Linked DNA regions of Homo sapiens. The protein of the gene in region 1 interacts with the protein of each later gene in a pairwise test. Each region holds a gene or a part of one and is shown in the gene's direction. Other genes may lie near its edges.

What was found. The genes of interacting proteins can lie anywhere in the genome.
Region 2: the proteins of MKKS (region 1) and CDR2 interact in binary tests that used the Homo sapiens proteins (3 or more experiments, as listed by UniProt).

Annotation. Positions count from the first base shown.
Region 1 is NC_000020.11:10,410,104-10,413,938, reverse strand, and holds part of MKKS (molecular chaperone MKKS), read left to right. Parts: intron 1-7; 5' UTR 8-51; coding exon of another isoform or gene 52-204; 5' UTR 205-424; coding exon 425-1,409; intron 1,410-3,835. Other genes in the region: uncharacterized LOC128706666, read left to right, coding at 52-204. UniProt on the Homo sapiens protein: Probable molecular chaperone that assists the folding of proteins upon ATP hydrolysis. Plays a role in the assembly of BBSome, a complex involved in ciliogenesis regulating transports vesicles to the cilia.
Region 2 is NC_000016.10:22,367,963-22,371,797, reverse strand, and holds part of CDR2 (cerebellar degeneration-related protein 2), read left to right. Parts: intron 1-3,835.

The DNA of each region.
Region 1 (3,835 bases):
TTATTAGGTAAAGAAGCAGCTTTGAATCTGAGCTTCATATCGAAAGAAGAGATGAAAAATACCAGTTGGATTAGAAAGAACTGGCTTCTTGTAGCTGGGATATCTTTCATAGGTGTCCATCTTGGAACATACTTTTTGCAGAGGTCTGCAAAGCAGTCTGTAAAATTTCAGTCTCAAAGCAAACAAAAGAGTATTGAAGAGTGAAGTAAAATAAATATTTGGAATTACTAATTTGTCATTAAATCATTCTATGCTGATTAGCTTCATAAACATTGAACTTTTTGATTTTATAGCCACAATGCTGCATATTCATACTTTAATTCCTAAAGAATAATTTTTAATGTTAAAACGTGATAATGCAATAAATAGAAAAATGTGGTTTACAAAATAAAAACGGTCTTCACTAGTTACCACCTGAAGTAAGATGTCTCGTTTGGAAGCTAAGAAGCCATCATTGTGTAAGAGTGAACCACTGACAACTGAGAGAGTCAGGACCACACTTTCTGTCTTGAAAAGAATTGTAACATCATGCTATGGCCCCTCAGGTAGGCTGAAGCAGCTGCACAATGGCTTTGGAGGTTACGTGTGTACAACCTCACAGTCCTCAGCTCTGCTCAGTCACCTTTTGGTCACACATCCCATTTTAAAGATCCTGACAGCCTCCATACAGAATCATGTGTCAAGCTTCAGTGATTGTGGCTTATTCACAGCTATTCTTTGCTGCAACCTGATTGAAAATGTTCAGAGATTAGGCTTGACACCCACCACTGTCATTAGATTAAATAAACATCTTTTGAGTCTTTGCATCAGTTATCTCAAGTCTGAGACCTGTGGTTGTCGAATCCCAGTGGACTTTAGTAGTACTCAGATCCTCCTTTGTTTGGTGCGTAGTATATTAACAAGTAAACCTGCCTGTATGCTCACCAGAAAGGAAACAGAGCATGTCAGTGCTTTGATCCTGAGAGCCTTTTTGCTTACAATTCCAGAAAATGCTGAAGGCCACATCATTTTAGGAAAGAGTTTAATTGTACCTTTAAAAGGTCAAAGAGTTATAGATTCCACTGTATTACCTGGGATACTCATTGAAATGTCAGAAGTTCAATTAATGAGGCTATTACCTATCAAAAAATCAACTGCCCTCAAGGTGGCACTCTTTTGTACAACTTTATCCGGAGACACTTCTGACACTGGAGAAGGAACTGTGGTGGTCAGTTATGGGGTTTCTCTTGAAAATGCAGTCTTGGACCAGCTGCTTAACCTAGGAAGGCAGCTAATCAGTGACCACGTAGATCTTGTCCTGTGCCAAAAAGTTATACATCCATCTTTGAAGCAGTTTCTCAATATGCATCGTATTATTGCCATAGACAGAATTGGAGTGACTCTGATGGAACCCCTGACTAAAATGACAGGTAAAAATCACTCTTTGCTTTTGCCTCTTACAGTTAATAAATCACACTTTTTTGAGCAGAGATATTTTTGGTTTGTGTCACTGTTAACATCTTGAAAAATTGACCCAGCATGTGTCAGTATCATTTCTGGCAGCAAAGGTTTCTGGAAAAGATCCTGTATTGTTCACATACTAAAAATGCAGTGATTATAGCCATTTTCTATGTATTTTCAGCCCCCTAATGTACTATATCATCTAACCCCCAAATATTTTACAGGTTATTGAGAAGTCTAACATCCCCATAATCCTAAGGTCTTTCATACTTTACACAAAATTCTTCAGCCTCAATTGACAAAACTTTTAAATCATGTTATATTTAGAAAGTAATTTTGTAACTAGAATGACCCTTTTTCTTCACTTTGTCATAATTCCAGCAAACTTCTGTACTTCTCCTTAAGTAGTTGTTTCTAATGGGAGGGGGATGTACATGCACCTATGTTTTACCTATATCAAAACTGTTCCCACCTGACCTTGAGAACCAAGATCATCTTTTACTTTCAGCACCTATTACAGGCCTGGCCCACTGTGGGTGTTCTAAAGTGTTTGTTGAATTGACCGAAATATATTTGGTAATATACAGAACTAAAATAGGCAAAAAATTCACTGTATTTTACAAACTCAGCAAATTAAAAGCAGATATAAGTACTGTTAGAGCCAAAGAAAAATGACAAGCTGAAGAGTTCCTGATGTGAGCTACTTTTCAGTATCCTTTAACTGCTTTGACAATCTATCAGAAAGATGATCATTTAGTCTGCATTGTTTCCAATTTTTAAGTTACTAGACTTAAACCATTGTTAAAGTTTATTTAATAAAAGTCTTAGTATAAATTATCAAAAAGGAGCCATATGTATGCCAAGTGTTGAATACATAATATCTCTGGGTTATTGCCCTACCTTGGTAAGACTCAAATGACTGTCAAAAGTAGAGTTTCTTAATAATGGAAATAATTCCTTGGAACTCGTTGTTGGTATGGTAAGTCAGACTGATAGCCTTAAATATCTACTAGCTTTGCATGAATCTGGCAATTTCCAGTTTGTGAATACTGGGTCTTCCAGACTCATTTTTAAAATATGGGACACTTTAGCTGGGTGTGGTACATGCCTGTAGTCCCAGCTACCTGGGAAGTTGAGGCAGGAGGATTACTTGAGCCAAGGAGTTCAAGTCCAGCCTGGGCAACAAAGCAGGACTACATCTAAAAAAACAGAAAGGGCTGGGCGGTGGCTCATGCCTGTAATCCCAGCACTTTGGGAGGCCAAGGTGAGCGGATCACAAGGTCAGGAGATCGAGACCATCCTGGCCAACATGGTGAAACCCCATCTCTACTAAAAATACAAAAAAATTAGCTGGGCATGGTGGCCGCACTTGTAATCCCAGCTACTTGGGAGGCTGAGACAGGAGAATTGCTTGAACCCAGGAGGTGGAGGTTGCAGTGAACCGAGATTGCGCCACTGCACTCCAGCCTGGTGACAGCAAGATTCCCTATCAAAAAAAAAAAAACCAAACATTTTCCCGTAGAAACCATATTGTAACTGGGGGCTGGGTTTCCACACTAGCCCATAATATATACCTAAACATGGCATTAATAGCCATAGCTTTAGTCCTGGATCTTGGGAGCAGAGAGCTTTTGAGAAAAAAAGAAAAGGGGGAAAACTACCAGGCACATAGCGCAGGTAAACTTTTAGGTAGATGAAGTATGTTTTTGGCCTTACCTATCTCCCCTGGTAATCTAAGTTAACATTACCTCATTTCAGGCCTTCAAACAAAATTCCTGTTTATTAATGATATAGGTTGTGTAGTGGGTGTTACTGTGGATGGGTGCCACATGTGAAGCATATTGCAGCTTACAGAGGTTTTTGTTTGTTTTAAGGTGGAGTCTCACTCTATCGCCCAGGCTGGAGTGCAGTGGCGCAATCTCGGCTCACTGCAACCTCTGCCTCCTGGGTTCAAGCAATTCTGTCTCAGCCTCCCTAGTAGCTGGAACTACAGGCACACGCCACCACGCCTGGCTAGTTTTTTGTATTTTTAGTAGAGACAGGTTTCACCATATTGGTCAGGCTGGTCCTGAACTCCTGAGCTCAGGTGATCCACCCATCTCAACCTCCCAAAGTACTGGGATTACAGGCATGAGCCACCACGCCCGGCCTGGAGCATTTTTAACATTTGACTTGGTTTGATTTATTTGTGAAGTATGCATTATTATCCCCACTTGCCTCTCATGTGAGGGAGGCAGAAAAGTTAAATGACATGAGTGACAGCATCCAGTGGCTGATAAGCAGTAGAGCCGGCCTTCTCATGCAGAATCTGTTGTTCCCACCATGTGAAAGAAATTATACTATAAGATTTTGGGTTTTTTACTTAGATCACTTTTTTAAAGTATTCATTATTCTT
Region 2 (3,835 bases), on another chromosome or scaffold:
TTACGTTATCACAGTGGACTTTGACTTAACCCTCTGTGTCATAACCAACTATATGGAGTACGAGTAGAAGATGTGAAATTCCAACAATTGTAACTTGTGAATATGGCCTGTCAAAGAATAAAGGCTACAGTGTGAATAAAAGGGTATCCTTTCCCCAGTTTTGCTAAGTTATATGTTAACTCCTAAACTTTTAACAGATTTTAAAACTTGTTCATTTCTCAAAAATGTATTATCTGCTCTTTGCCAGGTATTCGCCTGGGCCCTGGGGCCACAGCACCTCCCCACATGAGTGGATAGGTAGGATTCCTACTCCCATAGAGTGAATGTTCCAGGAATCTGTTCACTAGAGAAGCCTGGAGGTGCCGCCTCATGGGATGTGCCCACTACAGCGCCTCGTACATTGTAGGCCCTCAGTAGACACTTGCTGCTGAATTAAGTTTGGGAGCAGGTCTGTCCTGTTAAACAGATTATTCAGCAAGTCTAGTGGGATTTTATGTGCAGGCATCTGTCCGTTTTTTAACATCCTCATTATTATTACTGAGCAAGGCTTATTTGGAGAGAACTGCTTAAAACTTTTTTTTTTTTTTTGAGGTGGAGTCTCGCTCTGTCCCCAGGCTGGAGTGCAGTGGCACGCTCTTGGCTCACTGCAATCTCCGCCTCCCGCGTTCAAGCCATTTTCCTGCCTCAGCCTCCCAAGTAGCTGGGATTACAGACACGTGCCACCACACCCAGCTAATTTTTGTATTTTTAGTAGAGACGGGGTTTCCCCATGTTAGCCAGGATGGTCTCAATCTCCTGACCTCGTGATTTACCCGCCTCGGCCTCCCAAAGTGCTGGGATTACAGGCGTGAACCACCGCACCTGGCTGGAAAACAACTTTTAATGATCCTGTTCTCAGTATCTTACAACTATAGAATGTTTTCCTTTAGCAGTAGTAAGCCATGCTCTGAATAGATTGAATCTTTGTATCAAAGTTTCCTAGGGTATCCGTTTTTAAATTGAAATTGCTGGAAATTTCTAACCTCAGTAAACTCTGGTCTACTATTCATACCTTGTTAGAAACATGTAAAGCTTTTGTGTAGGCAGGAGGAGAAAACCCTTTGCTGTTACAAAACTCTTTGATGAAGAGACTGTCTTTTGTCAGAGAGCTGAGTTGGCTCAGTAGGAATACTGACAATAATCTCTGTGGGTAAGATCTTTTCTGGGACAGCAGGAGCCTTCAGTGCAGGTAATGATGGTGCTTGCTTTGAAACATGCCCCTGAGAACAAGGTGGAAAGACTTCAGAGACTGGATTTTCTTTTAAACCAGCTGCTATTGTCATTTGGTGAGCTGTGCAAACTTAGAATAAGGATTCAGGTTTCTGTTATGTGGATCAGTAAATGAACTCTTAGTTTAAAGGAATCCTAAAATTGCAGGATGAGTACATCCTCCTTGTGTACAACTATTTTGCTGAATCACTGTTTGGAGGGTTATTAAAACTGACAACATCATTTTTCTTGATATTTATATTCAGGTTTTCTGCTTTCCCAATTATAGTAACATTGGCAACAGGAGTTAAACAGAAGCATCACTAAATGACGCATTTGACTTTGTAATAGGAAAAACTTTCAGCCTTACTGTTAGTGAATTACTCCTACAGACTACAGCTGCCAGTACTAATTTTTTGCCTAAAGCATAGAGCTGAGTATCTGTTTAAAGCTAACAGTTTACACCATTAAAAATATATTATTACCTGCAAAGACTCATTAGTGAAAGAATATTCAACATATGAAGGTATTGATATGTTGAAATTCTCAAGCCTGCAATAAATCTACAGTATTTTTAGTAGTTGCCTAAACCAGGCCAGTTCAATAGGATTTAGAGAAGACCCTCTTAATGAAAATTCATTTTGTAATCCTGTAGAGATGAACAGGTGTATAAGGCTTCGAAACTATATTATTTCCTTTTCTTTTGTGCCTTAATTAAAACTATAAGGGACATTCAATATTCTATTCCCTCCACTAATTATTTAGAAAACTTTCTTGGGCTTACTGCCAGCTTTTGGCCTCTTTTGGTTATGGAAGCCAGCTGCTACTCAACAGGAAATGAACTTTTTTTAAAGACAAAGTCCGGTGTCTTTAAGCTAACAGATGAAGTAATATCCTGTTATACAGTGTGACTTCACAGGAGCTTTCTTGTAGTTGGGACTTGTTAAAATTCTATCCTTAACAGCCTATAAATATTTAGGAGATCGAGACTTCAGGTTTCTGAGCCAGGCTGGTGCTTTGTTTTACTGGAAATAAGGTTTGAGATAAGGACAAGTCTCAAATTCTTTTTTGTTTGCTATCTACTAAAGAGTGCTGTCCTTGGTATCTCTTTCTGCAGGAGCAGGGAAGAGGTTCCTGGCTACTCTTAAGTAGCACAGGTAGTTCCATAACTGAATGAAAGTGGTGATAGTCTCAAGACAGTCTGGATTCTGGGAGAGGTTTCAGCCCAGTTGGGTTTTGTTTTTTTTCTTTTTTTTTTTTTTCCTGCTAAGAGACAAGGTCTTGCTATGTTGCCCATGCTGGTCTCGAACTCTTGGCCTCAAACAGTCCTCCTGCCTTGGCGTCCCAAAGTGCTGAGATTACAGGTGTGAGCCACCACACCCGGTCCTTGGCTCAGGCTTTGATTGCTGGTTAAGAGCATCTTTGGTGAATCTGAGCCTTCCCAGTGAGGAATTACCACTTCACACATTTAAGAAGGAAAGACTTAAGTAATACCTAGGTAATGTTTTTATACTTTGTCTTTAATACAGTGTGGTAGCTTCCATATGGGTCTATGTATACACATTACACACTCTGTGAGTACAAAATCATTTTTTCTGGAACATGTTGAGCCATACATAGTTCCTTTTTCATTTGGTGAAAACAGGGTATTAACTTGCCTGGGGTTGTATGTGCTTTCACTAGCAGAGCAGGCAATAAAAACCCAAATAGTTGAACTCTAATTTCTCATTGCAATCTGTGAAAACAAGTAGAAGAAATTAAGTACCTCAACAAGGGGAACATTTGTATTCTCTACCTTAAAGAAGCCTGCGGACCTCTCTTTCAATTGCCTTAAAACTCTGCAGATGAAGATAACAAAGAATCGTGATGAGAGTGAGAGTGAGAACCTGTTGACCTAAGAGTTTCTGTTTGATCTGTGACTCACCTTGGAGCTTGATTAGGTCAATTAACAGTTTTGTGCTTCAGGCTGTCTCATCTGAGAAACTGGACTAAATACCTTTAAAGATATAAAGACTAATGTCTCTAGAAAACAAAAAGTAGGCTGGGGGCAGTGGCTCATGCCTATAATCCCCAGCACTTGGGGAGGCCGCGGTGGGCGGATCACTTGAGGTCAGGATTTCGAGACCAGCCTGGCCAGCATAGTGAAACCCCATCTCTACTAACAATACAAAAATTAGCCAGGTGTGGTGGTGGGTGCCTGTAATCCCAGCTACTCAGGAGGCTGAGGCAGGAGAATCACTTGAATCCAGGAGGCAGAGGTTGCAGTGAGCCGAGATCGCACCACTGCCCTCCAGCCTGGGTGACAAGAGTGAGAGACTCCATCTCAAAAAAAATAAATAAATAATGACAAGAAAAAGACTAATGTCTCTTAAATGCTTTGAGCTATTTGTAAAAGTTCTGTGTTTTGTAAATACAAGTTATTTCATAGATTTAATGGAAGTCTTTATTTTTTATTTTTTTATTTTTGAGACAGGGCCTCACTGTATTTTTGGTAGAGATGTAATTTCACCATGTTGCCCTGGCTGGTCTCGAACTTCTGAGCTCAAGCAGTCCATCTGGTTCACCCTCCCAAAATGCTGGGATTATA